Regions from separate parts of the Homo sapiens genome. Here all the other regions are linked to region 1. The links come from fine-mapping of genetic effects on gene expression. A gene starts in region 1. Each other region holds a variant in brackets. All regions are shown on one strand. Distances are between the middles of the regions.

Region 1 (8,106 bases):
AGTGTCCCAGGGGTAAGAGCTGAAACCCTCCTTTCCTTTCTGAGGCCCTGTCCCCTTGTCATTGGTTCTAGAAAGCCTTTGGCTCCATTTCCACTCTCTGAGCGTCCAGCACTGACCCCTGAGGGGCTGACCCAATTTGTCATCCGGTTTCTATTTATTGAGCAATTCTCATATGTCAGGCACTATTCTGGGTGCTAGGGATTTGGTAATAAAAAAAACAGGCAAAATCCCTGCTTTCCAGGAGTTTGCATTCTATTTAGAGAGATTACTATAAAGAAATAATCATGTAAAAAATACAGTGCCTCAGATGGCTGCAGGGACTATGGAGTCACACAGGGCCGGGGCATAGGAACACTGAAGTGGTGGTCAGGGAAGGCCCCACTGAAACTGTGGCATCTGAGCAAAGACCCACAGAAGGTGAGGGAGGAAGGTGGGCCTCTCTCTCGGGGGAAGAGTTCCATGCAGAGGGAATGGTAGGTGCAAAGACCTTGAGACAGAACTGAGCCTTGGATGCTGGTGAGCAAGAAGAGAGCAGGAGAGGAGGCAGAGGGGCACAGGAGGCTGCAGACAACAATGAGTTGGAAGCCTGGGGGCTGTTTTCCAGGCCTCACTCTGCTTACTAGCCATTGTATCCCGAAAGCTGTTCCACCCAGTGAGGGCAACGTGGCCTGATTCCACAAATGCAAGTGTGGGCTTAGCAGCAGCTGCGGGTTGAAGGGCAAGTAATATAGGGCCTTGTAGGACTTGGGCTTTTCTTTCAGTCGAGACAAGAAGCCACTGGAGGATTCAAATGGAGGAGTGTCGTGACATGCTTTTAAAGGATGGCTCTGCTGTGGTGTCAAGTATAGGCTATACAGGGTCAAGGGTGAAAGCAGGAAGACCAGTTTGGAAAGCAGAGTCAGAAGTCACCTGTCATAGAAGCCTTCTTCCTTCCAGCCAGGCCACAGCCCACCTGGCTGAGAAGCCTCTCCTCATAGTCATCATAGGCCATGCCCTTCGAAGGACAGGAGGCCCAGGTCTCTTGCACCCTAGCCTCTGCCCACTGCCCTATGCCATGCAACTGGACAGACCCTGTTCATGGCAGGGGCCATAATCAGATGAGCCTCAGGAGGTCAGTTGCCAGCGGCCTGTGGTCATTTCCCAGCCCTTTCTCCTCCCTGCTCCTCTCTTGGCCCAGCCGTGACCTCCGAGTAGTGACTCCTTGCTCCAGTGAAACCCTCTAACCCCTGCCTTTGCCTGAAGCGTGGTGATACTCAGCCAAATTTCCCACGCAGCATGATCGGAAGCCACGGGAGCACGCTGCTGTGTTGCGCTCCTCTTCGGCAGCCTCTGGGCCTCAGCACTCTCACCCTCCTCCGCCCGCTCACACACTGTCCCATCCCCAGCATCTGCTCAGATATCAGAGGCCTGCCCTGCCACCCAGTATGGCCTCTAGCCACAGCTACCCTGCAGTCAGGCCACAGGTCAAGCTCTGGCCTCAGCACTGAACTCCCGTGGGGACTGAGGGAAAGTCACTGAGTGTGCAAGCGGCCTTGGTGCTCTGTGGGGCTTCCCACTGCATCCCTGAAGGCAAAGTTCCTCCTGGGGAGGTGCTAGTGGCCGCTGTGCCTCGACCTCCAGACAAAAGGAGATGCTGGAGGGAGGTCTTCACCATGGCGAGTTCTCCAGCCTCTGCTGCTGCTTTGGACCTAATCTGAAGTTTCAACAGGGAACTAGGGACAGGGGCTTCTGTGTCTCCATCTGGCCCATCCTTGGCCCTTGATGAGCCAAAAGGGGAAACTCAGACAGAACCCTACATTGCATGCTATTGACTTTAGCCCCAAGAGATACCCACCACCAGGGCATTCACCATGCCCTGCCTGCTTCTCCTGCCCTGGCTCTGTGGCTTCATCTCCACTTCTCTCCTCCACCCCTTGGTATCCCATTTTCTCCAGGAATTGTAACTGTTTGAAATTCCCTAAACGCGTCACGCTTTCATGCCTCCTGGTCCTTCTGCCTGAAAATCCCCTCTGCCCTGAGAACCCATTTAACTCGTGCTCACTTCGGCAGCACATATACTAAAATTAGAACCCATTTAACTTTTCATCCGCCTTCCAGACTCAGCAAGCAGAGCTCATGACACCCTCCTTTGAGCTACCATGGCCCAGAGAGTACTACCCCTATTGACACACTTCACATACACTGTAGTAATTCTCTCCCCTTTAGACGTGGGCTCCTTGATGGCAGGACCTGTGTCCTAGTCACCTGTAGCACCTGGCACGATGTCTGGCCTATCATAGATTCTTAGAAAATATTTGTGGGCTAGATGGGTGGATGGATGCATGAGTGGATAGTTGAATGGATTGATGGATGAGTGAATGAACAGATGAACACGTGTGTGTGTGTGCATGTGTGTGTGTGTGTGTATAAATGGATTGTGTGGATGGGTGGGTGGATGGATGGATGGACGGAAGGGTGGATAGTTGGGTGGATTGATGAATAAGTGAATGGATGGATGTGTGTGTGTGTGTGTGTGTGTGTGTTTGTGTGTGTGTGTATAAATGGATTGTGTGGATGGGGATGGATAGATGGGTGCATGGGTGGATGGGTGGATGGAAAGTGAATAATTATGAATGAGAATGAGGGTACTACACCATGTATCTGTTGAGTATTTTAACACTGCTTATCTCCTTTCCTGCCAAAAGGAAAAGATGGAATTAAATCCCTGCAAGAAGACAAATTGAAGCCCAAATGGGTAAATGATTTTCTAAGGTCCCAGGTCAAGCTGAAACAGCACGATGTGGTGAGAGGTGGTAAGGTGTAATCTCTCTCAGTCATTTGGTCAGTGACCAATGACCCTCCCTGCCCCTGAGGTGCTCACCTTGTCAATGAAGGAGGCAAACTTGTTGTTGAGAACCATAATCTGCTCCCGCTCCTGGGTCTTGATCCTCTGAATTTCAGGGTCCACCTCCAGGTGAAGTGGCTCTAGGAGGCTCTGGTTAATGGTCACCTCTTGGATGCCCCCAGGAGGACAATAAGGACCAAAGCCCCCAAGCCCAAAATTGCTAGTCCCAAATCCAGCACCCCCAAAACCACCTCCTCCAAAGCCACCAGCCCCGGTGCTGCCAACCCCAAAGCCTCTGCCCCCTCCAAATCCCCCTACTCCCCCACCCTGGCAGAAACCACTGGTGCTCCTCCCCATTAGATTAATGGAGATGCTTCTACTGCCACCCAGATTGTAGAGGCTCCTAGAGCCAAACCCCCTTCCATGGATCCCATATCCACCACCACCACACCTCCCTCGAGCATAACACACAGAACCCACTGCCGGACTCCCACCACCAGAGCCTGCAGAAGAGCTGGTACTATAAACCCGCCTGCTCATTGAACTAAACGCGGACTGAGAACTAAATTGGTGGCTCATGTTTGCTGGAGCATCCAGAGAAGCAGGCAAGAGAAAGAGCCTGGCAGGAAGGAGGCAGAGACCAGAGAGGAAAGGAGCTCTGACTCCTTTGAAAAGATCTGGCTCCGGCTCTATATATATACACACACACACACATTACTGGGCTGGGCACCTTTACAATCCTGAAAGGGGAGTATTAATGTTTAGTTTGCCTGCCAGCAACATCTGTTTAAAACCTCACACCTGTGAGTTGCAGAAATCAGATTGCAGACAAACTTCCCCAACTCGATCATTTATCATTCATCTCTTGCCATTTAGAGATCAGAATGCAAGAATCTCTCAGGATCTCATTGCTGGAAACTTCTATACAGATTCTCCCCAAATCATCAGTTCATCTCTTCCTAAGAAACTCCACCATCGAGTTGTTTGTTTCTGGGATGTGCCTGGGAGATCTGGGGCAAAGTTAGATGGTGTTTAGAGACCTCAGGACCATAGCTGGGACAGAGGTGGAAACACTTTCTGTCACAGCATCGTCCTGGTGGGGCAAAAGTTTTGTTCCAATCTCCCCACACACTGCTTCTGCTCCCTGCAGTTATCATCACCATGAGCACCCAAAATTTTATCACATGGAAGTGCAATATTGTGGTCACTGAGTACAAGTGGAGGCCCACAGATTCTGCCCAAGGTCATTCACATTGTGTGCTGCTTGATAAGCCTCAGACTTCTCAAACACAAAACCACACAAGGTACTTCAGCACCAAAAGTCTGTGGTTATAGATTTGTTGAGCATCTACCAGTACCTAATATTGTCTTCTAGACCAGAAGACAAACCATCCCTAACTATCTCTCTTTCTGTTTTATCATTTCCGGTTCTTTATAGACAATACTTTTGTAAAATAGAATTAAAGGAATTACCTCCTAAAGATAATTTTTTAAAAAAGATATACAAAATGCAAGCCCAAATTTTTTTTATTTTTAGATTCAGCAAACAAAACATTGTTTAACTGCTAAAAATAGCAACAATAATAATAATTTTCTAAATGGTTACTCTCAAATTCTGTGCTTACCACAAGGCAATAGCAAAGCACGGTAGACCAGCACTAATCTGTGCTCACCCTCTGAGAAGCACGTCCCAGACAGCATCCTGGGGAAAAGCTCATTCAGTGAGCATCAGTGTCCGCCAACAAAAAAATGTGCGTTTTCCCTCTGGACTCAAATAGCTGTGGCTTTCATCCAAAATGTAATAATAATTTTTTTAACTTGGGGAAAAACTCTCCAGCCTTAGAAAAATGGCTAAGCGATGGCTTGCCCAATTGGATACAATTATTTTAAATCATCTTGTTGGAGACTCTGCAGCAGAACCGGCAACCACTTGTGATACTATGTACCATATTAAAGGGAAAGGGCAGACTACATGATGGAGTCTGCGCTGTGAACTCATAAGAATTAAGAATGCAGAAGGCCGGGTGCAATAGCTCACTCCTGTAATCCCAGCACTGTGGGAGGCCAAGGCAAGCAGATCACTTGAGCCCAGGAGTTCAAAACCAGCCTGGCCAATATGGCGAAACCCCATCTCTACTGAAAATACAAAAAATTAACCAGGTGTGGTAGCACACTCCTGTAGTCCCAGCTCCCACGGGTCAGGGGGGCTGAGGTAGGAGGATCACTTGAGCCTGGGAGGTCAAGGCTGCAGTGAGCCCTTATCGTGCCACTGCACTCCAGCCTGGGCAAGAGAATGAGACCCTCTCTCAAAAAAAAAAAAAAAAATGCAGATAAGACAGACTTTGTGAGTAACTAGAAAGTGAGTTGATTTATTTAGAGACTGTGGGAGGAGTTTTCCTAGGTTCTTTTGTTTGTTTGCTTATTTTTTTGAGACAGAGTCTTGCACTGTTGCCCTGGCTGGAGTGCAGTGGCACAATCTTGGCTCGCTGCAACCTCTGCCTCCTGGGTTCAAGCGATTCTCCTGTCTCAGCCTCCTGAGTAACTGGGATTGCAGGTGCCTACCACCACGCCTGGCTAATTTTTTGTATTTTTAATAAAGACAGGGTTTCACCATATTGGCCAGCCTGGTCTAGAACTCCTGACCTCAGGTGATCCACCTGCCTCAGCCTCCCAAAGTGCTGGGATTACAGGCGTGAGCTACTGTGCCCGGCTGAATTTTCCTGGTGTTTTAAATGTCCTTTTTCTTTATGTTCATTGCAATAAATATTTTTTGCTCACGCCTTTAATCCCAGCACTTTTGGAAGCCAAGGCAGGCGGATCACCTGAGGTTAGGAGTTCGAGACCAGCCTGACCAACATGGAGAATGCCATCTCTACTAAAAATACAAAAAATTAGCCGGGCATGGTGGCACATCTGTAATCCCAGCCACTTGGGAGGCTGAGGCAGTAGAATCACTTGAACCCAAGAGGCAGAGGTTGTGGTGAGCCGAGATTGCACCATTGCACTCTAGCCTGGGCAACAAGAGTGAAACTCCACCTCAAAAAAAAAAAGAAAGTTGTGGCAGAAATCCCAATAGAGGTGGGGAAGAACAGGTGGTAGAAACAAGAGCACTGTGGGGGCGCCGCAGTGAAAAGTCATCCTGGTACAGGGAAATGCTCCAAGGGCAATTCCAAGCTTCCACACCCTCTTCTCATGAACCTCTGCATTCCGTACATGGTATCTGTTCAGTGGGTCATCCAGGAGACACTGTGTGATAGAGGAGACAATGAGCCTGAAATTTATAGGCAGAAGCTCTGCTGCTTGCTGGTTGTGTCTAGAGCCTCAGACACTTAAGGAACCTAGAGCCTCTCAGACACTTAAGGAACCAAAGTGTCTATTTCTCAAGGATTCAAAGCTATATATAAGTCATGTGGGGAGAAAAAAGCAGAGCACTGGAATCACTAAACAAGCAGAAATAGCTGCTCACAGATCCTGGTGGGATGACAGCTGTCCTGCTTTGCCTAGGATTTTCAGTACTTAAACCAAGATATACCTGGGCAAATCAGAACAGTTGGTCACCCTAGTCCTAGGCACCTATGGTCCACACAGCCATACTCCTAACCCTAAGGTAAGAGAGGGAAGCCAGGGCCTAGCCTCCAGCACAGAGTGACAAGGAGAGAACCAGTAGAAGCAGAGGAAGGAAAGAGAGGTGAAGCTAGGGAAAGGGGTGGGTTCATGTGAGAAAGCTGCCTGAAGACCAGGATTCTGAGTCAGATATCAGAGGAGAGGCAGAAAGAACAGAGCAGGGGGAAGAAGTAGGGGTCTGGCTGAGAAAATGGGGGCTGATAGGAGAAGGGACAGTAAGTACCAGACAGGAAACAGCAGTGGTGTGGCGAACAGATCCTTGAGTTGGGCATCTTGAAACCCAGCTCTGACTCCTGGCTCCGCCCCCTCCTAGCCCCATGGCTGGGACACTTGACTCCTTGAACCTCAGTTTCCTGACCTCTAAAATAAAGAAAATAGTAACCAGGCGGGCACAGTGGCTCACACCTGTAATCCCAGCACTTTTGGAGGCAGAGGTGGGTGGCTCACCTGAGGTCAGGAGTTTTGAGACCAGCCTGGCCAACATAGTGAAACCTCGTCTCTACTAAAAACACAAAAATATATAATCCCAGCTACTTCGGAGGCTGAGGCAGGAGAATCGCTTGAACCTGGGAGGTAGGGGTTGCAGTGAGCCGAGATGGCGCCACTGTGCTCCAGCCTGGGCAACAGAGGGAGACTCTGTCTCAAAATATATATATATATAAAATAACAGCTTTGTAGAGTGATAGTAATGAATGGCTATGAACAAATATGGAAGAGCACTTTGCAAGCCCCAAGGAGTCACACAAGTGAGGTTCTGTTCCCCAACCCCTCCCTGTGAACCCACCTCTCTCTCCGGCTGCACCACTCACTTTCAACCCCACCTCCTCCTCATGAAGAATACACATAATTAACCCCTTCGCATCTGTCTCTACTGCCACCTAAACAAACAGGAAGCTCCTTGCTGTTGGGACAAGACTTCATGGACCAGGAGCCCCTTTCTTCCTGCAACTGCTGGGCAGAGTGGGCCAATAACAAAGGCCTTCATGACTGAGCTAAAGTAAAGAGACGTGGACAGCTTAGAGAACCAAGAGCTTGGGCCCCACAATTAAGTGCCCCTGGAGTTAAAGCCCAGCTCCCCCCATGTACCAGTTTTATGATTGAACTAATCACTGAGTTCCCTGAACGCTATTCATCTGACCCTTAAATAGAGCACTTGAAGACAACAAATATTTTAAAAGGCTTGCTCTTACGAGAGGTGTTATTGTGTGGCTGTGGCTACAGCATTGAGACCTATGAATGCGATGAGAGTTTTTAGAAAGACAGGCAGCTGGAAAAGGCTTCACAGAAGCAAAGGCAAGCTCAAGCTAACCTCGAAGGATGTACTGTAGGCCAGTGAGAGGGTGCTCTGTTGTAGGGACTGGGACTGGGAAGGACCAGAGAAACTGCTCGTGCCAAGGCCTAGAGAAAGGAACGGGCATGTGAGGGGGTGGGATGGGGGAGCCATGAAGAGGCCCCCTTGCCTCGAGGGAGCAACTGGGAAACCCTGAGGCCTGAGTTTGGCTTCGGTCACAGAGGGCTCCAGCAATGTCTTTGAGTGGAATTTGTTCAGCACTCGCCCAGGTTTCTATATACTGTCATGCTGAATGTGAAAATATTCCATTGTGATAACATAAAAAAGGAAGTCCCGGACAGCAGAGTTTAGGAAGCTTCTTTGATCT
Region 2 (8,106 bases), 29 kb before region 1:
ATCACCAAGTCCTAATGATATAGCAACTAACTATCTCTGTAATGCATATTCTCATTTCTGACCTTCTACTACTTCTAAGGGCTGGAATTAAAGTGCAAGTCCCTATCGTCTTTTGTCTTCACCTTTGCAATAGTCTCTTAAGTCTTCCTGCCTCCAATATGGACCTCTCCAATCTGCCCTGGCTGACTTTTCCAAAACACCAATCTGACCATGACACTCTCCTATTAAGTACTTTTACCAGTTCCTCCTCACCTATGACAGCTGTTTCTGACATAAAATTCCTGAGGGAAAAAGACATTTCCATAAATAGATCTCCCATCAGCAGACCAGATTTCTTAGGGAATACTTGGAAACAAGACAAGCTGTGGTCCATACCCAATTCCTACTCCACTAGCAGTAAGACAACCCCTTTCCCTTCCACTGGACCAGTACATAGTAGGTCTAATAATAGATATGAAAACCCCATCTGAGAACTTGTGACCCAGAAGCCAAAGTCCAGACTCCATAGAATGCCAACAAGGCCCTTCTTGATTGGATCTGGATATCTTTTCCGCATCATTTCTTGTCACTAATTCCATGCTTCTTCAGATGCTTAACTACTTCATGAAATTTCACTCTTCTATGTCCTTATCTATATGATTCCCTCTGCCTTGAAGATCCTCGTCTGCCTGAAAAACTCTGATTCATTCTTTAAAGCCCTGCCAAGCATCACTTTCAATCATCTGTGTTCCTGTATATCTATTTCTGTGTCTTGGATGTATCTCTACCATTGCTACCACCCAGGTCTCTAGGCTCTCTGAAAGCAAGAACCATGTCTCACTCATCATCATCTCCCCAACGCCCAGTTCCTCATACATAGTATTTGTGCAGAAAATGTTTTTTGAACAGAACTGAATCCAGAGTCTTCCTTTATCGTCTTTCTAATGTGGATGCATTTTGGCGTTTGGTCTAACTCAATTTACTTCTTCACTATATACTGACTTACACAGGGTTTTCATTTAATCCTTGTAACCTTACAAGCCTTGGTAAGTTTCCCTGCAAATTGTATTTTTCTCTGTTTCATGACCTTCCCATAAAAACTCGAGTCCAAAGAAGATAAACAGGAGTATCCCCAGTACTGAAATGTGACTAAATAAAGTTGTAACCTAAGAAAGTATGTAGAAAATCTGGGCCAGAGTATAAGAACACATCACTGTTCATTCAGTAGCGTCCCTGGGAAAGAGGTGCTATATCTGTTGACCCCAGAGGTCAGCTCTTCTGTGAAGGAGAGTGAATCATCTCCCTCAAGGCCACCTAACTCTCATTGTTCTAAATCCACAGATCAAGCCAGCTCTTGTCAGTACTTTAGTTTCCCAGATCTCTTGATAACAGGATGGTATTTCAGTCACTGGAAGTATGTGTTTCCCCACAAGCTAATGCTGGACATTCTGGTTGACACATCCTTCATCTCTTGTGTGTTTGGTTCCCATAAATCAGTACTCAGGAGCAGATTCAACTTTGGGTGCACTAACAAATCAATTTCCTGTCCCTGCAGAGCTGTCACTGAGCCACAGTGACCATATCAAGGTACTTCCCTCCATGGAGGCCCTGAGCAGCCAGCTGCCTTTTACTTTTTTGTCACTCCCTTTTTAATTCTTTTAGCTACTCTGTATAACACATTCACAATTCACAAAGGTTTTCACGTTATATTTCTTTTCCTCTTGATGTCTAGAGGAAAATATTCTCATTCCCATTTCTCCTACAAGACAACTTAGGCTCAGGATGGCCAAGTCACATCCAAAGATCCACACATCTTATAAGCTATAGATGCCTTTTCTTTGCCTGCCCTTTAAATAGTACAGTTCCTTGTTCTTTCTACTCTACCATAGTGCCTTTCAAATTCTGACATTAGTCTGAATGGAAATGGACATGGTGGTGTTTCATCCAGCTAAACCCACTGCTGGACTCACTCTGACAGTGACAGCAGGGGAATTTCCATAGGGAAGTGCCCGGAACCATCCCAAAATGGAGCCAGGTGGGATTCCAAAAAACAAAGCACTAAACACCAGGGTGATCAGTGTGCAGTATTTAAAAGGAGGACTAAAGGTTCAGAGTGAAGTGCAGCATTCTCACGGTGGACAGGGACATGAGGGATGTTCTAGCTGGGTATGTCTGCAGTTAAGGAGTCAGGTTATGGAATTTCATAGACGAGTTTAAGGAATTTGGCTCAGGGCGAAGGCTAGTTTCTGTGTGTTTAACAAAAGGGCTATTTCCCAGTGTTTCCCAGCAACAACTAAACAGCTTTGTCAGTGCCTGAGAATGCCCGAGACCCAGCTTTGCTTCAAGCCTGCAAAGGAAAGCATGCAGCTGGCCAAGTGATGGAGTAGACAAGGCACACTGTGTTTCCCGGTCAGGACACAGAAAGACAGCAGGGGACACTGGGGTCCCTACAGAAGGGATAACTGAGAAGGAAGAATAGAGCTCACCTGAGTTGTGTTTGCATAATACATGTGTGATCTATCCTCTCCTTATTCCATTAGCCCTGTGGGACTCTGGAGCTAAGAAGACTTTTCCTAATTGGAAACTAAGGAAATTGATCCTCAGAGAAGTTGACTGCTTTTTTCACGTTCAGAGAACCATTACAAAAATTTTGGTAACTTGCTTCTTTGAGCAAGCATCTACTGAGCTGTATGGAGTCCCACAAGCAATGTTACGTCATCATCATCATCATCATCATCATCACCATTATCATTAAAACTGGCACTTATTTAGTGCTTGCTGTGTGCTCAGCCCTGTGTATTCATCTTATTCAATCCTCACACTATTCCCACAAGGAAGGCATTATCATCCCCAATTTAGACATACTAAAACTGAGGTGCAGAGATGTCTGTAACTTGCACTGTATTACAGAACTAGTAAATGGTGATGGTAAGATTCAAACCCAAGCATATCTGAGTTCAACTGTCCATGCTTCTGGCCACTATGCTATCCTGTTGTACAACTTCACAAGTATGAGCTATGTGTCAACAAGGGAACTTCTTAGATTATGCAGAGCTTTGGGTGGTGGCACAAAAAGAGAAGGGAAATGGAATATCCAACTCTCTATTACCACTCTTAGTTCTTGAACTCCCCAGGCCAAAGTCTGTATTCTGGCTCCAGTAACTGCTGACCCTATATTACTCATGCCCCTCCTTACTGGCTGTTCCACGTGAAGAATTACTTTTTCATGCAATACTTTCCCTTCTTCTCAATGCCACACCTCTTCCTCCCAACCTGCTTGCTCACTGCCCTTTTCAAGAAAGCCTTCTCAAATGAACAAAACCTGTCACCCGGTCTCTCCATTTCTCCATGACATCCCCACCATCTGGGAAAGTGCTTGCTCTCTCTGTGATTCCAGTCTGGTGAAATGTTGCCTGGTTGGCCTCTGCATTTTTCTCATGTTTGTGTGCATGACTTTCCCATATGCCATGTGGCTCTAGTGTCTTCTTTTACCTCACAAAACACCCATCCAGGTTAGACAGTGCCGTAAACAAGGGCGATCGAGACATGGAGAATTTCAAATGCAGTTTATTGCAGCAAAACAAGGAAATGGGGAGTTTAAGACCTCTCCACAAAAGAAAAACAACTTGCTTACACCTTATGTACAAAACCAAAACAGCACAGAGATAAGATGCTAAGGAGCTGTCCACACCCTGGGTCTAACTGGTCCTACTCTGGCTGGCTTAAGGAGGTGCTTTGAAATGTCATGTGGGTGGTGGTCACTGCTGAACTGTTTCTCAGGGAAAGAACAAAGCAGGGTCATAGCCAGGGGACTGAGATTGCCACTGATCTGAAAACTTCATTGGGAAACAGCAGAAAAGAAAGAGCTGGGGGAATAGGATGAGCTAGTGTAACTAACCATAGCTCTTTTCTCCGGTAAGGCTGGGACAAATCGACCTCGGTCTTGCCAAGCATATTTGTTAGTGATGCTGGGGGAGAACTAGAGCTAATGAAACAGAGGGCATCTCTTTATCTGGTTACTCCGGAATAAGTGGTAGAAACAAACTTCACGCTGGAACTGCCACCAGAGGACTTGACACCCCCAGAGCTGGATCCCCGGCCTCCTATGGAGCCTCCAGAGCTCCCGCCGCCAGAGCCCCGGCCGCCAGAGCTGCCGCCGCCGCCGCCTCCAGAGCCACCTCTGTAGCCCCCACTGCTGCTTCCGGAGCCGTAGCTGCCATGGCCGCCGCCGCCACCTCCAGAGCCATAGCTGCCACCTCCGGAGCCGTAGCTGCTACCTCCGGAGCCATAGCTGCCACGGCCGCCGCCGCCGCCACCTCCAGAACCATAGCTACCACCTCCGGAGCCATAGCTGCTACCTCCAGAGCCGTAGCCACCGCCGCCACCTCCTCGGCTGCCACCTCCACTGATGGTGGTGTGGCTTGTGCTCACAGCTGCAAGAGGAAGCTCAGTTATTTTCAACCTCAACTCCGTTTCCAGCCCAACAAAGCCTGCACATGCCCCTGAGAAATCGACTTGTACTTACACACACTCACGTTCGGGGCACATTCTCCAGACATCCTGTAGGAGAAAATAAGAAAATTCCTCAGGACACTCCAGCTTCCCAAACCGCTTCCCCATTCCCCGCTCCACCACCTTGAAGACTTTCCCCATCTGGGTCTTCTCCAATGCACTTAATCTGAAACTTAATCCAATCCCCTCTGGCCTCCCAGACCTGTCATTTTTTCTCAGCAAGAGTACAAACACGGAGAAATTCCCATATAAACGAGACAAGAGCCTTGCAGCCAATGAAGGCCC[C/T]CTCTAAAGATGCCGACTTTAGGCCAGCTGCCATCTGAGGCAGCCCAGATAAAGAATAATTTGCTCCACCTCAAAGCTCTTTCTAGATATGTTACAGCCCTAGAAGAAAAAAATAAACAGCTTGGGACTCCAGCTCCCAAAGTAAAACTAGGTCCTTCCTCCTGCTCCGTGTACTTTTCATTTCCCCATACCCAGCACAAGCTGCAATCAGATGGCTGCATCTTCAACAACAATCAGCTTGCAAGGAAGGAAGACCATGAGAAGAGGTTCGACTCCCAGCGTCCCTTCCTCACCTGCTTTCTTCTCCCTCCAGGAGGGTCCTGTAGGTGGCAATCTCCAGATCCAGGGCCAGCTTTGTGTTCATCAGCTCCTGGTAGTCGCGCAGCAGGCGGGCCAGGTCTTCCTTGGCCTGCTGCAGGGCATCCTCCAGGTCATTCAGCTTGTTCTTGGCATCCTTGAGGGCATTCTCGCCACGCTGCTCTGCATCACTGATGGACTGCTGCAAGTTGGAGATCTGAAAAAGAATATGACACCCTCTCATAATATGCATTCCCCACTAGGCCTCCTCATCCCAATTGGTCTCCCCACTCCAGTGAGGCCAATAATGAGTCCAACAGAACCACTTGGCCTTAAGTCATCTCACACCCACCTCCAGATAACACATCACCATGTTGACTTCCTTAAAAGACCTTAGGGATAACTCAACAGCCTCTCTTGGCCCTGAGTCAAGGCTCCTACAACCCTTACAGACTTGACATTCTTCTAAACACCTACTCTAAAACCTCCTGGCTGCCCTTCCTCTCACTCCCCAACTCTTAAGTCCACTTTGGGTCATAGGCTAGATCACTCACATTGACCATCCCATCTTTCTCTACTAGGCCATTCTCACAGATTTCCCTAAAGAGAACCCAGCATGATGGCTGCATTCTGGAAACTAGCATAGTCACAAAAGGAACCAGGGATAATAATGTAGCCTTGGGATGAATTGCAAGATTCAAAACTAGGAAAGCACTCGCCCTTTACCTGAGGGTTACCCCCATTCCATACAGCTGAGTGGTAGAAGGAGAAAGCACATACCTGCTTCTTGACATTGTCGATTTCAGATCTAAGTCTCTGGATCACACGATTCAGCTCAGAAATTTCTATCTTTGAATTTCTCACACTATCCCCATGTCTGCCAGCAGTGATCTGCAGCTCTTCATACTAAAGATGGTAGATAGCGTTTGTTAAATGTAGGCAGAACTCAGCATGGCACAGGCACACATACATGAGATAACACAGGATAGCAAGACAAGCCATTTCAGGGAAACTGGCTAGGCTTTCAGCCCACTCACCTTGCTCTGGTACAAGGACTCGGCCTCAGCTTTGCTCTTCTGGGCTATATCCTCGTACTGGGCCTTGACCTCAGCAATGATGCTGTCCAGGTCGAGACTGCGGTTGTTGTCCATAGAGAGGATGACATTAGTTTCACTGATTTGAGTCTGCATCTGAGACAACTCCTGCAAGACATAATAGGTTAGTGACTCTTACAGCACTAAAACAAAAAACAACTTAGACAGAGAAAGCAGTCAGAAAATAAAAGATAAATATCTATTCTTCTGAATCGTTGTGGGTTCAGGCTTAAAAACTCTCCATTTAGATAAACTTGGTTGAAACTGGAAGACTTACTGCTTGGTAGAGTGCTGTAAGGAAATCAATTTCCTGCTGCAAGTTGTCAAGTTTGGCCTGAAGGTCCACCTTGGTCATATAAGCACCATCCACATCCTAGAGGAACAAGGGACATCATGAAGGCACATTCTCTCCAGGGCAGGTCCCTCTCATTACCTGTGAGGGGATTCTCCAAGCAAAAAAAGGAGCTTTGGGTCTACTCCACTCCTTTTTGCCCCAGGTAAATCACAGTTCCCTAACTGTCCCACCCCCGGATAGCACCATCAAGGGAGTGTGCCTGGCTTGCTGAGAATCTGCCACTCCACTTACTATGTAAGGTGCTGGGAAATATGGAGAAGCCAAGTGCCTGGATCAGTCCAGGTCCATGATGATGTGAAAATATAGCCCCACTCCATATACTCCCCAGGTCTACTACCTGGCTCTCCATATCATGGCTGCTTTCTGCTTAGTAATTGGAGACCCTCTTCCCTTATTTATTTCAAATGTGAGTTCCGTCCTACAGAATTTGCTTACCTTCTTGATGGTCACAAATTCATTCTCTGCATTTGTCCGCTTGTTGATTTCATCCTCATACCTGCAGGAAAGCAGAAACAATTAGGAGATTCAGAGGTGGTAAGACCTGAAGTCCAGCATTCTAAACTAAAGGTGGCATTGCCTATCACTGCCTTTCTATTATGAACCTAGGACATATTGGCCACTACTTTCTACTGAGCAATAAAACCACTAGACTATTTCCATCTCCTGAGAAAATGAAGATTTCTGAAAATGTCAAACTGATGTGCCTCTAACCTAAGAAAAGACATAGCTACATGCTGCTTCATGATCTTAGCTTATTACTTTCTGGAACTCTTTTACAGCAAAAGTTAAGAACTGCCCAGACAGGGTCCCTTACTTGTTCCGGTAATCCTCCACCATGTCCTGCATGTTCTTCAGTTCCGAATCCAACCGAGATTGATCACTCTTCAGTTGGTCCACTCTCCTTCGGAGATTGTTGATGAATGACTCAAAGTAGGGCTCTAAATTATGGGTTCTAGTGGAGGTATCTACCTGCTGCAGCAGCTCCCATTTTGTTTGCAGTACCTGGTTCTGCTGCTCCAGGAACCTCACCTAAAAACACAAGACCCCTTTACTCCTGATGCATAAATGGAGTCTCATAGCCATGGAGAACTGTGCCTCATTTGGAAAAGAACCTCAATTCCTATCTTCTGACCATGACAGAGAAATAGGAAGAAGATGATCAAGTTAATATCATCTGCATAATAAAACCCAACTTGTTAATTCAGAGAGGGCTTGGAAGGGAGTAACTAAACAAATACCAATAGCAAAGCGCATACAGAATTATTGCAATTATGTTTTGAAATAGGTGCATGGTATTTAAGAGATTTGCCTTCCAAAATTTTGTTAGGTATATTACCATAAAAACTGGTTTGCATCCCCAGGACACACACACATTTCAAAAGTATATCAGGAAAATTCAAAATTGGATTTGAAATTTGTTGTGGATAACCTTGGATTGGCACTATTAATGATTAAGCAAAAAATTAAAAAAATGGTTTATCTGAGTTTTTTAGAGCTGATTTTTGGAGATATTAGTATAAAAAAACTCTAGCCTCATCCAGTACCAATGTAAAATTATTAGAAGGCAGAGCTCCCCTCTGACAG
Region 3 (8,106 bases), 100 kb after region 1:
ACAAGAGTGGGAAAGGAGGCATGGCCATGGCAAGGCTTAGCATTACAGCTGCGTGGCAGGGGAGGGAGGTGCAGAGTGGTGGTTCCCAGACTGCAATTCAAAGCACATCATGGGCCTCCAGGCCACACCCTGAGAGCAGGTGGCCCAGAGCTATCTCCTCATCCATTTCTGAGCTTAATCTCTCAGACACGCCTTGTTCTGAGCTTGTCTAGTCTTAGAACATAAAGCCCAAACCCCAAACAAATTGGACAATGGGCCAACCCATGCCCTCCACATCCTGGCCTCAACCTTGCTCTCTAGCGTCCTCTCCCACCACTCCCTGCCCTGTCTTGAGTGATGCTAAGCTGCTTTTGGTTTGGTACTGCACTGAGCCACACTTCCCTGTCTTTACTCTGCAATTCTTGCTGCCTAGAGCACCCTGTTCCCCTGCACCCCTCTTGCAAGCTCCAGGTCCACACCCCTTTTACATGGCTGACTTCACAGCTGTCACCTCCTCCAGGGAGACTTCCTTGAATCCCTGGCAAAAGCAAATGATTCTCCCTTAGGCTTCCAGAGTCTCAGTGCTTGCATACACCATTGCTTTTAACATTTTCCTGAAAGTATGGAAAATGTGTATTTAATGTGTCTACACTCCCCACACTCACTCACCATTTTCACATTAAACTCTGCCCTTCTCAAGGGTGAGGACCACGCTGCAATAAGCTTTATATCCTCATGGCCCTACACAGAGTCTGACACAATGTAGGTGCTCAACAATGCTTCTCGAACTGAAGCAACTGCCCCTGCCGTGCTCTTGGGTGGTGGATTCACAGGAGAAGGAGCTACCAGCCCGATGGGAGAAATGCTGCAGCTTCACAGGACACGACACAGAAAAAGGAGTGTGACCAAAATCCAGTATGAGGAGGCCTAAGGGAGACAGAACAGCAGGATATTCCAAAGGGGTGGAGCCACTCCTAGAAGACTTCTAGACGAAAGGACTCCTCTTAGGTATCAGAATCTTGCCCTCTGTAAGAAGAGCACCTGCCCTGTCTCTAGCATCTAGGGCCTGCTTCTTCCTCAAGACCCCACTTCAATACCGCCTCCTGCATGAAGCCTCCTGTGATTGCCAACCCCTCACTCTAGACTAGAAGTAATTTTGCTACCCTCTGGACTGTCATGTCCTTCATTTGTAACTTCCAAAGGCATTCATCTGTCTGTCTGGTTACCAAGTTCTTTATGTGCATGCTTTTATCTAGACATTATCATCTGTATTAAAAGCTCCTTGAAAACAGAGTCTAATTCTTCTTTGTATAATGGGTCCCCATTGCCCAGCACAAACTAGGCACTTGGTAAACATTGTTCAATTAACATTTGTTAAACAGCTACTATATGGCAAGCACAGTGGCCCTGGAATGTCAAGATGAATAAAGTCATGGTTCCTGCCCATAAATAATTTATAGACTAGTGGTTTGTTGAGTAAATGAGTGAATGGCTGGGTGGATGGATGGATGAATAGATGGATGATGGATGGATCATAGATGGATGGATGGATGGATGGATGGATGGACGGATGGATGAGTAGATGGATGAATGGGTGGATGGCAAATGACAGTCCAAACACTTTCTCCAGAAAATGTCTTCCCAGCTTATCTAGCTTCTCACCCACTTTCTCGAATTTTTAAGGATCAAATCCACAACACTCAAAGTAAAAAAACTGCAGATGCAGAACAATCCTACCTTGACCCAAAGCCAAACCAGAAAACCATGGGCAGCAATGAGCCTGAGTCCTGGGGCTCCCACCACCAAGACCCTTCATGGCCACAACTCTACACTCCCAGCCCTCTTAGTGGAATAACGAGATGACTGTTCAGACCCTACCATCAACACGGGAAAAAAAATGGAACAGGTGCTAAAATGGCTTTTTTCCTTTCAGCCTGCTCCCTCCCTTTGTCCCTCGTTGGCCCACTGTTACCATGTCCTGAGGGCCCACAAAGGGGGCACAGCCCCCTCAACTATTTCCCCACGTAGCTGTCTCACTAAACCCTGAACATCCACCCAAGACATGGGAGCAGCCATGCCTTATTCTGAGGTCCTCTGGTCTTAGAACACAAAGCCTGGGCCCCGTCAGCAAGTTAAAACAAAACCCCACAGTGGGACATGAAATAAGCCCCTCTTTGCTATAACCTTCTGGGTTTACTAGCAACGAGGTAGGGAGACTTCAGAAGTATTGGTGAGAACTTTCTGGAACTGAGAGGGCTGAACCCAGAGCGGAGGGTCTTGGTGAGGTGGGAGGGATCTATGCAAACATAGCAGTTGTTCAGGAGTTGACAGGTGCCTGAGCCAAAGTGATGGTGGGGCTGCAGCCAGGGCTGGGAGCCAAGATCTTGGGGAATGGAGTCAGGGCAGATGAGCCAAATAAACCAAGTTAGAGATTTGCCAACCTGCAGTTGGGCTCTTCAGATGTGAAAAGTGATTTCCGTATACTTAGAGGTAAAGGATTTAAAAGAAAAGGGAGAGCATGGGGCCTCCAACGGGGTAAATAATGCAAGCCATGTCTCCCTGTTTCCTAAGCACTAGGAGCTGGCCAGAATCCAATTCGAAGGATCAGAGAGAAGGGTGGTGTCTATTATCTCAGCAGTATATTTACCCCAAATAATCCCCTCTGACTAGCCAGCCAGTTTCAAACATATGAATCAAGGCCAGGATCCACTCTCCTGGACTGTTCTAGAAACAGAGACCAACATGAGGGCTTTTCCTTTTTATGTAAAATAGAAGACTTTTTTTTGAGACAGAGTCTCACTCTGTCGCCAGGCTGGAGTGCAGTGGTGTGATCTCGGCTCACTGCAACCTCTGCTTCCTGGGTTCAAGGGATTCTCCTGCCTCAGCCTCCCGAGTAGCTGGGATTATAGGCGCCTGCCACCACACCAGGCTAATTTTTGTATTTTTAATAGAGACGAGATTTCACCATGTTGGCCAGGATGGTCTCGATCTGTTGACCTCATGATCCGCCCCCCTTGGCCTCCCAAAATGCTGGGATTACAGGTGTGAGCCACCGTGCCCGACCTAAGAGACTTTTTATATAAATAAGAAACGCTGACACACTCACATAGCCATGTGCCTATGAATACAAACACATTTATTCTAAGATGCACATACACGCGTATAATCTACGGCCTGACCTTGCAGTGTAAATCACTGAGTTCAACCAAAGAGATGCTGAGAGGCACGGAGGGCTGCTCAGGCTGGCTGCTCCCACACTCAGGGGGCATGAGAAATGCTTTAACCTGCCCCTTGCCTCTCTGTGAGGCCCAACACAACCTGCAGCCTCCTGGTGGGTGAACCTGAGAAGCTCCACCCCTAGTTCCAACCTTTAACTCCTCCTCACCACTCCCAGAAACTCAAAAAAAAAAAAAAAAAAGAGCCCATCTGCATTTTGCCAGGGGAGGAGTGCAGCCCTTGGAAGAAGCCAAAGCCACCAAATGCAGCTGCAGAGACTTCCTGTTCTGACACATGGGGCTCAATGAGCCCTAAGACAATGGGGATATTAGGGCCAGGCTGATGAAGGACAGAGCCCAGGTTGCTCCTGGCAAAGTCCCCTGCCCAGAGAGCACAAGCCCCTGAGATTAACCCTTTGCTACTCTGTCCCCGCTTTCCCAAAGGCAGAACAACCCTGAGCCTACCTTGGATCTGCACGAGACTCCCATGGGCAAGGACTGGTCTTGGGCAAACGACGTGCCTTTCTGCCTGCACACCATGAGGCCCCATGGACACAGGGCTGGAGGAACTGGAGTCTGAATGAACTCTGCGGCAGTCAAGGGTGGGAGGCACAGTAGGGTGGCCAAGGCAGAGAGTGCATTCTGCATCTGCAGCAAACTGATTCGAGTCAGACTGCAGAGCAGGAGCTGGGAAATCTTTGGAAGAGGGGAGACTGTGCTGCTCCAGGTACTTGGAATTGGTCCAATATAGAAAAAGGGTGTCCCCAAATCTACCCAGACCCCCACCTCTGACTGTCCTCTCCCCGCTTCTGTAATTAGACAGCTCCCTCCACTCCTGCTCCAGAAGACCTGCTCCACCTCCAACATTCTTCGCCACTCAGGGACAGCACCACAGACATAACCCCAGGCACCCCTGAGGAGCTGGG[G/A]AAGTGAGCAGCTCATGAAAACTCTAGGAGAATGACACACATGCACACCTCCCTCCAACAACCGTGACCTTGTTGATTCTTGGAACAGGTTCCTGAAAGCCTTGTTGGGCCAGTGAGATTTAGCCCCATGCATGGAATTTCATGAAAATAGGGAGGCCTTGCTAGACACAGAGTATAAGCACTCTCATAAGCTCCATAACTTCTTGCTCTATATTCAGCAGAGACCCCTGGCCTGCTTCTCTCACACCTATCAAATGCCCCCCACCTGCAGACTTAAACCCCTTCCCTCCAGGTTTATTCCAGGATCAGCATTGAAATGGTGCTACCCCAGGGTGCCCTACAATGGACAATGTGTGTATAATTGTTGGATGCCCCTTCAATCTGTACAACTGCCCTGTAGGCAACCTTCAGCCTCTGTACACTGTACTTCTCCCCCAATAATTTGAGTAACTTAGAAGTAGAGACCTGAGAAACTAGTCGATGACCCAGATCTGTATAAACAGATCCTTCACACCCGCAAGCATACACCTTCACCAAAATTATCTAGTTATACAGGATTCTAGAGACCTCTCCCCAGGGAAAAAAGACCATTGCTCAGAATGAATGACAAAAGCATTTTATTGAAGATTCACCTGCAGATGGATAAGAGGGAATGAGAGGAGTAGAATGGGACACTAAGTGGTTCTCATCCTAAGCTTGCAGGGCCAAGTGCTGCCGGGTGTTGGAGAAGTAGTTTGGTTCTGATGTAGATGGATAATACAGGATCTAGTGGGAGATGGCATTGGACTGGGAAGGGACATATGTGACCCCAATAATTCTGGAGATGACACTCCTGGTCATTTTCTTCTCTGTCCATGGGAGGTGAGAGGTCAGCTGACATCCTTCCCATTCCAGGTGGGTCACCAGGCCCAAATCAAGAAGTAGCTACCAAACTCCAAGAGGCAGAGTCCCTGTCCCAGCACAGAAGATCATCCTGGGGCAGAGAGAGCCCATGGGATAGTGGAGGGGATACTAGTAAGATGAGCCCCAGAGACAGAGGATGGAGGTGAAGTGAAGGAAGCACAGAGACACCAGTGCTGGGCCCAGCTGGACACAGTGAGCTGCAGGGACCTCGTCTCCTCTATCGTCTCTTGTTCAGGGTGGTGGTAGAGATGATCTTGCTGCTGGAACTGCCAGAGACACTGCCACCAAACCCAAAGCCACTTCCAGAGCCGGAGCCAAAGCCACTACTCAGGCCAAACCCGGAGCCACTTCCTAATCCTCCGCTGATGCCTCCAGTGCTGGTGCTACCGCTGACCACAGCTGCAGAAAAGACACAAAAGACACAGTTATTCCAATGCTGCCAGCACCCCAGGGGTCTGGCAAGACCCGGGTGAATGAACAACTACAGCAGGCGTGGAAGGTACTTACAGATGCTCACGGCACTCTGGCATTCTCCAGACATTCTGTAGGGGAAAGAAAAGGCGGTGAGCCTCAGGGAGCACAGAATTTTGTTCAATAAGCATGCCTCACTCACCTCTCTTATCCTTGAGCAGCCTCTGAGTTTGAGGGCCCAGTGTGAACCTATTAGCTGAGCTGTCCTGGTTCGTAATGCACCGGCACAACACTGATGCTTGCAGCCCGGCAGAGGCATAAATAAGCTCATGGCCCTGGACCTCTCTGGCCCTCATGTTCACACCCTGCCTAACCCCTCACCTGTACTCCTCGCCCTCCAGCAGTTTGCGGTAGGTGGCGATCTCGATGTCCAAGGCCAGCTTCACACTCATGAGCTCCTGGTACTCACGCAGCATTCGTGCCAGCTCCTCCTTGGCCTGCTGCAGGGCAGCCTCCAGCTCTACGCGCTTGCTGTGGGCATCTTTAAGGGCATTCTCACCTCGCTGCTCTGCATCAGCCACGGATACCTGAAGAGTCTGGCACTATTGACAAAGGCATTAGATAGGTGGTCAGCAGTGCCCTGCCTTCAAGGCCTCTACACCTGTCCCCTCCCCTGGTCCAGCTTTCCTTGGGTTAGGATGTCAAGATTCTATCTGTTCTGCCCACTTTCCCTGAGACTTATGCATCTCATTCACTCCAGCCATAGCCCACCAATGCCTCCACCAGACTGATTAAATAAAAATGAGCAAAAACCCATGAAGAAGAGCCAAGAAACCTATGCACAGGAGCGTCATGGTGTGCCAACTAGGATATTGCTGAAAAAATCTGGGTATGCCTTGCACAAAGAGCTATGAATTCCCAGCAACAAGCTCAGGGTCTTCTGGCCTGATGCTTTATCTGCTTGTCCACTCTGGAGATGTCTGCCTGAGGCCCCTGGCCTTGTGCTCCATCTGGAAGGGAGTGACACCCACCTGCTTCTTGATGTTCTCGATCTCTGCCCGCAGCCTCTGGATCATCCTGTTGAGCTCTGCAATTTCACTCTTGGTGTTCTTCAGGTTGTCACCATGTTGGTCAACCGAGATCTGGAGCTGCTGGACCTAAGACTCAAGAAGACACAGAGAACCAGGTGTTAGGGGCATTTGGGTAGGGTCCATTCTCAAGTGAACTCAGTGAGAATTGCCACAGGTGGCAAGAATAGCACCAAATGTCAAGTAGTTTCAAATCAGACCAGGACCAACGATGCCTGGGAGAGTCTGTTCATATCTGACTTCTATTGGGCTTGAGCTAATGATCACCTGTTCACAGACATCAAAAGCAGAGCCCCAGAGCCAGCCCCATCTCCTGAGAGATCCATACCACCCACCTTGGTCTGGTACAGGGCTTCAGCCTCAGCCTTGCTCCTCTGGGCAATCTCCTCGTACTGGGCACGGACCTCGGCAATAATGCTGTCCAGGTCCAGGTTGCGGTTGTTGTCCATGGAAAGGACCACGGACGTGTCGCTGACATGGGTCTGCATCTGGGACAGCTCCTGCAGGGCAAATGTCTCACATCAGCCCCCCCAGGAAAGCCTTCACTGACCTGATACAGGCTCAAGTAGGAGCAGAGCTGGCATTCACAATGTGTAGGAAGGGGAGAGACAGGTAAAGTTCTAAGGAGAAATCAAGTGGTTGTGACAGTTCAGGATGGAAGAGCAATGCTTCTAGTCTTTACTGGTCCCCAGGAACCATAAGCCACTCTAATGCAGTGAGTGCCGGTGTGTTGGAATGGAAGGGAAGGGAATGGATCCATTTCACCAGAAAAAAAATGCTAGACAGCAATGAATTCTATTCCAAGCACTCTTTAGATCTAATCACCCCGTCTAAGACCAAGACCACATCTGGTTCTAAGAATCTCCCAGTTGAATTTCCCACTTCAAACCTTTCTATGCATGACCTTGATGAGAACCCACTGCCCTAAAATAAGGGAGCTGGAGTCCTTTCAAAAAACTGTGAATCCCAACCAGCAGCGTCACAGATGGGGGATTCCCTTTCCCTGGATGGAGGGGAGGATGGAGCCCTCACCGCATCATAGAGGACCTTCAGGAAGTTGATCTCGTCATTAAGACTGTCCACCTTGGCCTCCAACTCCACCTTGTTCAGGTAGGCAGCATCCACGTCCTGCAGAGGAGTAAGGAGGATAAGAGATGAGGAGCAGGAATGCCAGTAGGAGGACGGGTTACTAAGTGACACCGACAGGTGTTCTCAGCAGCATTTAGGAAAGACTACTCAGCAGCAGGGGAGCTGGTGGGAGACCAATTATTTTATATATTCTTCCCTAGAGCCACCTGAAGACATGGAAGTTGATTATCCAAATAGGCTATTCTAACAGTATGGAGATCTCTCAAAGAACTAAAAATAGAACTACCATTGGATCCAGCAATCCCAGTGCTGGAATTCCACTCAAAGGAAAAGAAATCATTGTAACAAAAGGATACCTGCACTCATGTTTATCGCAGCACAATTCACAATAGCAAAGATACCAAATCAACCTAAGTGTCCATCAACAGATGATTGGATAAAGAAAATATGATACATATACACAATAGAATACTACTCAGCCATAAAAAGAGAATG
Region 4 (8,106 bases), 40 kb before region 1:
CTGTCAAGGGGTGAGCAGGCTCCCCCTGGTTCCTCTGAGAGCTAGAGGAAAGAGCACTGCCAGGCAAGGGAGGGGCAGGACTGGGGTGAGACCTGATGATGAGGTTGGGAGACGCCAGTTTATGTTTCCTCACTGGTGTTTCAGCAGCAGCGCATGGCACTCAGCTCTTTGCCTGGCATTGATGGGGAGCAGCAGGCCCTGCCAGAGATGACCAGGGTCCCTTCAAAGGACCAGGGGGCACAGCTCCTCATCACTCTCCCCAGGCTGATGGAAGGAAAGAGGACTGAGAAGGAAGCTTCTGAGGCCAGGTTCAAGGCAGACCTGCCCTGCTCTACCCTGGTGGAAAACCCAGGCTTTCCAACACTGGGCTGTTGGGCCCTCTGCCTGTCCCCTGAGTCTTTTCTTTGCCTTCTGTCCTCATATAAAAAGTGACTACAGTATCCCAAGAGAAAACATTGAGAGGGATCTTCTGTTTAGGAAGAAAAGCTGAGTAATGTAATTAAAAGTAATAGCCAAAACCACAATAATTTTTGCACCAACCTAATATCACAATTAATTATCCTTGCATGGTGCCTTGTAACAAGCAAAGGCCGCCTGTGTACTGGTTAAGGACATGGATTTGTCCAACACACCTGGGTTGAATCCCAGCCCCACCACTTATTGGCCTCTTGGCCTTGGAAATGTTACCTACCCTTTTGTGGCCTCCATTTCCTCATCTGTAAAGTGGTGGTAACAGTAGAGTTGACCTTTTAACAACCGAATGGTTAGGGGGCATGACCCCTCTTGCAGTTGAAAATTCAATATAACTTTTGACTACCTAAAAACTTGACTACTATTAGCCTACTGCTCACCAGAGGCCTTATTGATAACATAAGCAGTCAACATATATTTTGTTTGTTTTATATATATGTTATTGCTGTATTCTCACAATAAAGTAAGCTAGAGAAAAGAAAATGTTGTTAAGAAAATCATAAGGAGAGAAAACACGTTTACAGTACTGTACTGTATCTATCAATACCATAAGCTTACATCATGTGTTTGCAAGATGAATTATCTATCATGTCAGAAATGGCAGGCAACTGCAGCTGCAGACCTCAATCTACGGTACATATCAAGCAATTCAGCTTTTTTTTTTGTAATGTCATGGTTTTTCTCTGCTTCTTGGGAGCACTTCCAGCATCACTAGTGCCACTCTGCATGGGTCCCATGGTGTTATTCAAGGTTTACTGTAAAGCACTAAACATGATGAAAAATATGCGAGAACCTCCAGAGATCACTTTTTACTGCTATAAGCAATTTACTGGGGGAGCTAATTGCTCTTGTGGAGATGACTAGCATCACACAGTGTTTTAATGGCAATACCTGAGATCACTGAAGTAGCAACAGGAGGTGGCTACAAAATGATTACAGTAGCACATATGTATCACAGTTAATTTTAAGCAGTTATGATTTAATAATGCACCTTTACAGTTGCTTACATTTCTCTTGACTTTGGCACTATGTAGAGTCCGTGTGTGCACACATTTTGATAAATTTTAACTTTTCATAACAGATTTGTGTATATTTTATGGGAGTAAGTGATAAAATAGACTAGTATCTACATATATTTTATGCATTTATGACATGCCTAACTTTTTTTTAATTTTTTTATGTTTCTAGGATACAAGTTCATCTTCAAGTTTTTTCAAATTGTCACAAATCTCCAAAAATTTTTCCAACATATTTACTGAAAAAGAATTCACATATAAGTGGAGTGGTGCAGTTCAAATCTGGGTTGTTCACAGGTCAACAGTAGTACTTCAGAGTTGCTGTGAAATAAGTGATTTATGTGACACAGCACAATTTCTAGCACAAAGCAAATATTTCTCCTTTCGCATTATCTGTAGAAGTTATAGTAAGTGTCTAGAACTTCCAACATTACGTCGATTTTATGTTATTGCCACAATCTCCTAGCCTGCATCTTGCCACCTGATCATGCACCTCTTTCCTTAGCTTACAAGCCCACCCTAACCCTATGCCCTGGAGCTCCCCCGCTGTCTCCGGTCCTGCTCCCAACTGGTGGTCCGCTGCTCCCTGCTCAGGCACTAAGTGGCCATTCATTACAAGGCCAGTGGCCATGGATTTAGGATATAAGCCCTCCCTTCATGAATGGGTATTTCTTTTAAAAGAATGAAGCATAGGACCCCACTTTGGCCCCCAAGGAAGCAGTCCTTCCTGCGTACCCAGGCTGCACCGCTGCTCGTTGGCCCCATCCCACTCCCACCCTTGGGTGCCTTCTCAAGGAAGAGCAGCAGTGCTGATGATCGCTCCCTTCATGTATTACTTCAGGTCCCTGTTGCATGTGTCATTTCACTTTGACACTCTCCCTCTGAAGTAATTAGGGCAAATGTTATCTCATTTCACACATGACCAAACTGAGCCTCTGAGAGAGTGAAGAGACCTGCCTGAGATCACAAGACGAGTGGTGATAAGGCTTGGCCCAACGTACTCAGAAACCACATCCTTCTGGGAGCCCCACTTCTGCCCTCCCCACCCTCATTCACCTAATTCCCTGTTCCCAATGCAAAGATTGAGTGAGAGTGCTCTGCCCTCCTACAGGTTCTCCACCCTACTCTGGTATCTGTGCTAACAGCTCAAAGACATGGTAGAAACCATTGTGGCTGACATCTTCATTTCTAAGATGAAGACACTGAGTTCAGAGCTTGTCAAGGCCTCATGAATAAAGGGTAACAGAGCAGGAGCCCAGCCCCGCAGCTCCTCCACCTCGCCACACCAGCCTGACAGCACTGAATTTCAGAGCCAGAAAAGGCCTCAGGTAGACCAAAGTCAGGGGCTTAATAAATACTGCAGTCAACGCTCAATTACCCATAATAATGGAAAATAGGAAGCAAATAGGAGTTGTGTCCTTTACAACTTCTAAATCTGTCATTGCCACACTTCCCCCAGGGCTGTTAAGGCATCAGACCAACTGCTCCTCCTATTCACATCCCTGCAGATGGCCAGGAAAGGAGCTAATAGGGTGGTTACAGGGGCAAGATGGTCCAATCCTTGTTTTATCAGACTCCTAGTAACCACAGCTTGATGACTGTCCTGCTATAGGACAGACTGCATTTGCCCAGGTCCTGCCAGCTGTGCACCCCTCCATGGTGCCACATGGCAGGTCAGAAGTGCCAATGAGGTGGCATGAGGCTCCTGCCACACCACCTTTCCTCAAAGCCTTATGTCTTCATCATGGAAACCTTGTTTATCCATTACCAAGCCAAGAGAGAGGATTACTGAGAAGAAGGCAGCCAAAAACAGGGCACTCCCTTTGGAACCCAGCGGGGTTTCTCCGATCCCAAGCACACCTTAGTAGTTAGCACAGTGTGAATGAAGACAACCAAATGTTCATCTGTGAATGCTAATAATGAATGGTTACAACTACAGGATCAGCTTGTTCTTCCTTCAGGGACATGGAGGCAGATATCATGTTCTCCATTTGCCTAAAATGCTCTTCCAGCTCCACCAGGTGTAGAACAGAAGGAAATCAACTGTGCTGGCATTAGCAGAAACTTAAGACTGATAACAAGAGGGACTAACCAACTACTCCATTGCATACAGAGTAGGAATGTGGAGGGTAGGAATGTCTGGGTTGTTGGGTCTGGAAAGCTAAGCTAAGAACCTGCCTTGCCACACACTTTCCCACTGTCCATATAATTGAGGTTAATTAAGGACCTAGAGCTAGGGAAGGGGCAAGATGGCCTCACCTCAGACCTTGTCTCATGCACACCTCTGCATGCAGACAGGTGACTACAAGCCAAGATGGAGCTTGCCTCACGGGATCTTCTTCCCAAACAAGAGTTCCCTTGCATTGGAACTGGTAACATCCCCAGGGATCCCACCTACTTCACCCAAATTACCATCAACCCACCCTCCAAGACCCAACTCAACTCAGATGTTCTCTCCCCTTGACTGATGACCCTGGTGTGATGTGGCCCCCTCCTTCCTGTATTCCTCCAGTGCTTACTCTGTCCAGTTCATTGACCAACAAAAACTCACTAATCACTGCAGTAGAATACACATTCTGCTGCATCCTCAGGATGAAAAGGTAAAGAAGACACAGTCCTTGTCCTCAAGAAATTCATTATTCCATAGGCACTCATTTCTGTGGAGTAAATATACCTACCATGGTTGATCTCAAGCAATCAACACGGTGTTACTGAACATGGAGTTAGGAACAAAAGCAGGCAATTGGCTTTCATAAGCTGGTGCGGGAGGGTTCCAGGACACCGCTGGACATCATATGCCAGAAGCAAGGAAACATAAATGGAAAAGTGAGGCAGGAGTCAAGGAAGGAGGAACTATGAACTGGCTTTTAAAGGATGAATTCGAGTCTACACACAGAAAAGGGAGAAAGGAACTCCAGGAAAATGGAGAGACATTTGCAAAGACCTAACAGCATAAACATGTGTAAAAGTTTGGTGTATTTGGAGAATGACAGTACCCTCTCCCCTAAGCCTGACCCAGATGAGAAACTGGTTGACACTCAACCTCTAACAGATGCCCATGACAGGTGTCCTGTGCACGTTCTCAGCCGGGACTCTGATGG[C/T]CCTGCCACCTGCCTCCAGCCTGCCTCCATCCAGCTCACCCCAACAGGGCCCGGCCTCTGTCCCATGCAACCTCAGGAGAATCTTCTCTATGTCTGTAGGTGTCTGGGCAAAGGACAGCTGTCTTGAGGAGAAATCATACCAAACAAGGTTTTAAACTAAGGTCAGATGTCCTCATGCATGTTTAATCATCCTGTTCTATATTTGGTGACCTTAAGGACAGGTCTTAAAGAGATGACACCCAGTCTTCTATCCCAAAGGCCACTCGTCCCAAGGGCATAGCTGGCAGCACCTGTCTATGGCTGTGGCTGAATTTCGACGGCCCTTTGCTCATCTCCCTAGTAAAAAGTAAGGCACTTGCTGAAGTCAAGAATCCCAGGGCATCCCTAGAAAGACCTCAGAGGCGAGGCCATCCTGACTTAGCTTTCCCTGTCCAGTTCTCCTAGGACCTACTGTTGTGACATCCACTTTCGCCCCATCAGAAATTCTCCACTGGTGAAGCATGTGATAGACTATATTCCCACCCCACCCAGGGACCCCACTTAGGAGAACTGCTACCCCCTGAGGTCTTTCCTAAGAGATTGGGCCCTAAATCCTCCCAGTCCCTATCCGCTCACCTTGCTAGTTACTTGTCTCGCTAGGTAGGTATGGTCACCAAGGGCCCTCCCTGGCCCAGGATTGGTCAGACATAGCTACTCCTGATGGCCAGTTGAACTCAGCCTGCCAGAGACAGCTCCATTATAACCCCTTTACCGAAGGAAATATGGTCTAGGCAGGTGAAAAGACACCCAGTAGAGCCAATAAATGCACATTTCAGACCTTTGAATGTGCTTTTCTAGGACAACATTCCTCACCCAAGGGGCCCAAAATGAAGGACCCCATGTGTTGTTTTGTTGCGGGATTCTTAACCCATTTTGTCGGAAATAATCAGAAATAAATAAGGCATGCCCCCCACCCACTCACCCATTTAGGACAACACAAATCATTGGAACAGACATACTTGCAGCTACCTATATTATGTTATTAATGCCAGGACACAGGCAGGCAAAATGGGATGGGAACACAAAAGAATGTTTTTTTCCCCACGGGAGAGAGAAGGAGTCACAGAAGTTCTGGCATTTAGCTGGACCTTGAAGAAAATGTTAATGATCAATATTAAAATACATGCTAATAATTATACTTACTTTCTGGTTACAGCTGCATTCATTCATCTTTACGTAGGAAGAGGGTCTAGAATGGAAAGGGAAACTTAATAGTTCTTAGTTGAGGTGAATTTTCTGTTCATTTTAATTTTCTTTCATATGGTTACTATGCTGTTTGTGCAATTTTTCAGTAAGGATAAAAAATACATCCTAGTAATTTCATTTGGACTATTTCCCACCCCTCCCCTTTAAACATCCTTATGAGGTGGCTGAAGACATAGCTCCTTCAAAGCTGGAAAATTTCTAAAGCTATAAGGAACTGCATGGCAACCGGGCATGATGGCACATGCCTGTAGTCCCAGCTACTCGGGAGGCTGAGGCAGGTGGGCTGCATGTGCAGCCTCAGGCTGGCCTCTCCTTCATGACAGACCCCCGCCTGTCAACACCCCCACAGGGTGTACACAACAGGAAATTGACCAGGATTGAACCAAATCCACCATAAACAACCCCTGCTCAAGAACTGAACTCCAATATTTTTTAACTGAACAAACATAAATGTTCACCAAAACACCTATAAGATCAGCTCAAACCAGAACCAAACCTTTATGCTTTTTAAAATAACTGCTCAAAATATTCTGGGAGTTGAGTCTGGGAATCTTGGGAAGGAAAAAAAAAAGAGAAAGAAGAATCTGGAGGACTTGTAAGGAGAATGGGGAAAGAAGGCAGCCTTGGGATCTCCAGGTTGGAAGTGGTCCAATTTCCGAACCAGGGCTGGACTCTCTGCTCAAGTGCCCTTGCCTTGGGAAAGACCCTTCTACTTGTTTCTCCAAGTCAGCTTAACTCCTCTCACAAGACAGCTCCTGCACTGTGGGGCAACTGGGCCGGGGTGAAAGTTCTTCTTTAGAGTGACTCCTGTAACTTCCAAGCAAGAAGAGGCTGACTCTCTTCCCTACAAACTATGGTGTGGTTTATCTTCATTGAAAGTGACCATTGGCCAGGTACAGTAGTTCACGCCTGTAATCCTAGCACTTTGGGAGGCCAAGGCTGGTAGATCACTTGAGCTCAGAAGTTCATGATAAGCCCATCTCTAAAAAACATGGAAAACCCCATCTCTAAAAAAGAACAAAAATTGGCTAGGTGTGGTGGCGTGTGCCTGTAGTCTCAGCTACTTGGAATGCTGAGGTGGGAGGATCGCCTGCACCCAGGGAGGTTGAGGCTGCAGTGAGCTGAGATTGTGCCACCACACTCCAGCCTGAGCAACAGAACAGCACCCTGTCTCAAAAAAAAAAAAAAAGAGGAAAGGAAGAAAGAAAGAAAGAAAGAAAGAAAGAAAGAAAGAAAGAAAGAAAGAAAGAAAGAAAGAAAAAGGAGGGAAGGGGAGGAGAGGGAAGGGGAGGGGAGGGGAGGGAAGGGAAGGGAAGGGAAGGGAAGGGAAGGGAAGGGGGGAGGAAGGAAGGAAGGAAAGAAAGAAGGAAGGAAGGAAGGAAAGAAAGAAGGAAGGAAGGAAGGAAAGAAAGAAAGAAATCATCACACCCCACCCTCAGCCGTCTTCCTTGATCTTTTTTCCAGTCCTTTCTCTGCTCTAGTTTTTGCCTCTGTGCTCACATTAGCTTTTCAATGGGTCACTTTAACTTCCAAGATGCTCAGGACTGAGCTCAACACCCAGAGAAAAGAGCTTTCTCCCACGATCAAAGATTCTCTGTATCAGGAAGGATTTAGCTGCTTCCTTATGTCTTTGCAACTTGTGAACAGAATCAAGAGAAGTCTTTTTGTTTCTATTTTTCCCAGTAAGCTTTCTGAAATATCCAAAGGATGTAATCTTCATCCTCACCCTCCCTGGGAGCCGCTGCGTTGTGGTGACCATCACAGGTACCATCATTGCATGTAGAGAAGCCTTTGTACCAGCAGAGGACACTCCATACTGCCTAGAGAGAATACGCAGGGCCTATTGACAGATTGGAAATCGGGCGTGGGCCCCTGGGAGGGGTGGGGATAAACCCGCATGAACTTGGGAAGGTCGCAAGTTGACTAAGACTGCGCCATATTTCTGATAATGGATTGGCAGGGAGTGTCAGGTTCCCTCCAGCAGATATGGGAGTGGCAAACACGGTGACACAGAGCATCCCAGGGCATTCTGAGGATCCAACCTTTCAACAAACAAATAAATTTGCTGGCACCGCCCAGACATCTCGTGGGCATCTTCACTCTCCCTTTCACCCAGCACAAGGCTCCAGCCCACTGCGGCTCCAAGAGGCAACTTTAGAGACCACGTTTCTGGCCTCTAACTGTAGTCAGACTATTATCCATGCCCCCTTCACCAGGGAAGGGGCCTATAGTGCCACTTCCTCCCCGCCACCTACCCAAATCTGGACCCTATT

What was found. PIP is the estimated chance that this variant, and not a neighbour inherited with it, causes the effect.
Region 2: its variant is fine-mapped to the expression of KRT77 in whole blood (INTERVAL, PIP above 0.99).
Region 3: its variant is fine-mapped to the expression of KRT77 in whole blood (INTERVAL, PIP above 0.99).
Region 4: its variant is fine-mapped to the expression of KRT77 in whole blood (INTERVAL, PIP above 0.99).

The regions. Positions count from the first base shown.
Region 1 is chr12:52,700,032-52,708,137 of GRCh38, forward strand. KRT77 (keratin 77) reads right to left here and starts at 3,493. Exons shown (of 9, transcript NM_175078.3): 1 at 2,861-3,493. The coding sequence starts at 3,403. RefSeq lists an enhancer at 1,566-1,735.
Region 2 is chr12:52,671,206-52,679,311 of GRCh38, forward strand. KRT1 (keratin 1) reads right to left here. Exons shown (of 9, transcript NM_006121.4): 2 at 7,337-7,551; 3 at 6,958-7,018; 4 at 6,445-6,540; 5 at 6,111-6,275; 6 at 5,854-5,979; 7 at 5,070-5,290; 8 at 4,505-4,539; 9 at 3,531-4,412. The coding sequence ends at 3,988. Among named protein-coding and RNA genes, the nearest start is that of KRT1, 5.1 kb to the right of the region's middle. RefSeq lists an enhancer at 3,695-4,195. The variant C/T (reference allele first, on the strand shown) is at 4,777.
Region 3 is chr12:52,801,829-52,809,934 of GRCh38, forward strand. It overlaps KRT4 (keratin 4), which reads right to left. Exons shown (of 9, transcript NM_002272.4): 4 at 7,555-7,650; 5 at 6,858-7,022; 6 at 6,466-6,591; 7 at 5,816-6,036; 8 at 5,531-5,565; 9 at 4,721-5,422. The coding sequence ends at 5,241. Among named protein-coding and RNA genes, the nearest start is that of KRT4, 8.2 kb to the right of the region's middle. The variant G/A (reference allele first, on the strand shown) is at 4,121.
Region 4 is chr12:52,660,050-52,668,155 of GRCh38, forward strand. No RefSeq gene overlaps it. Among named protein-coding and RNA genes, the nearest start is that of KRT2, 12 kb to the left of the region's middle. The variant C/T (reference allele first, on the strand shown) is at 4,589.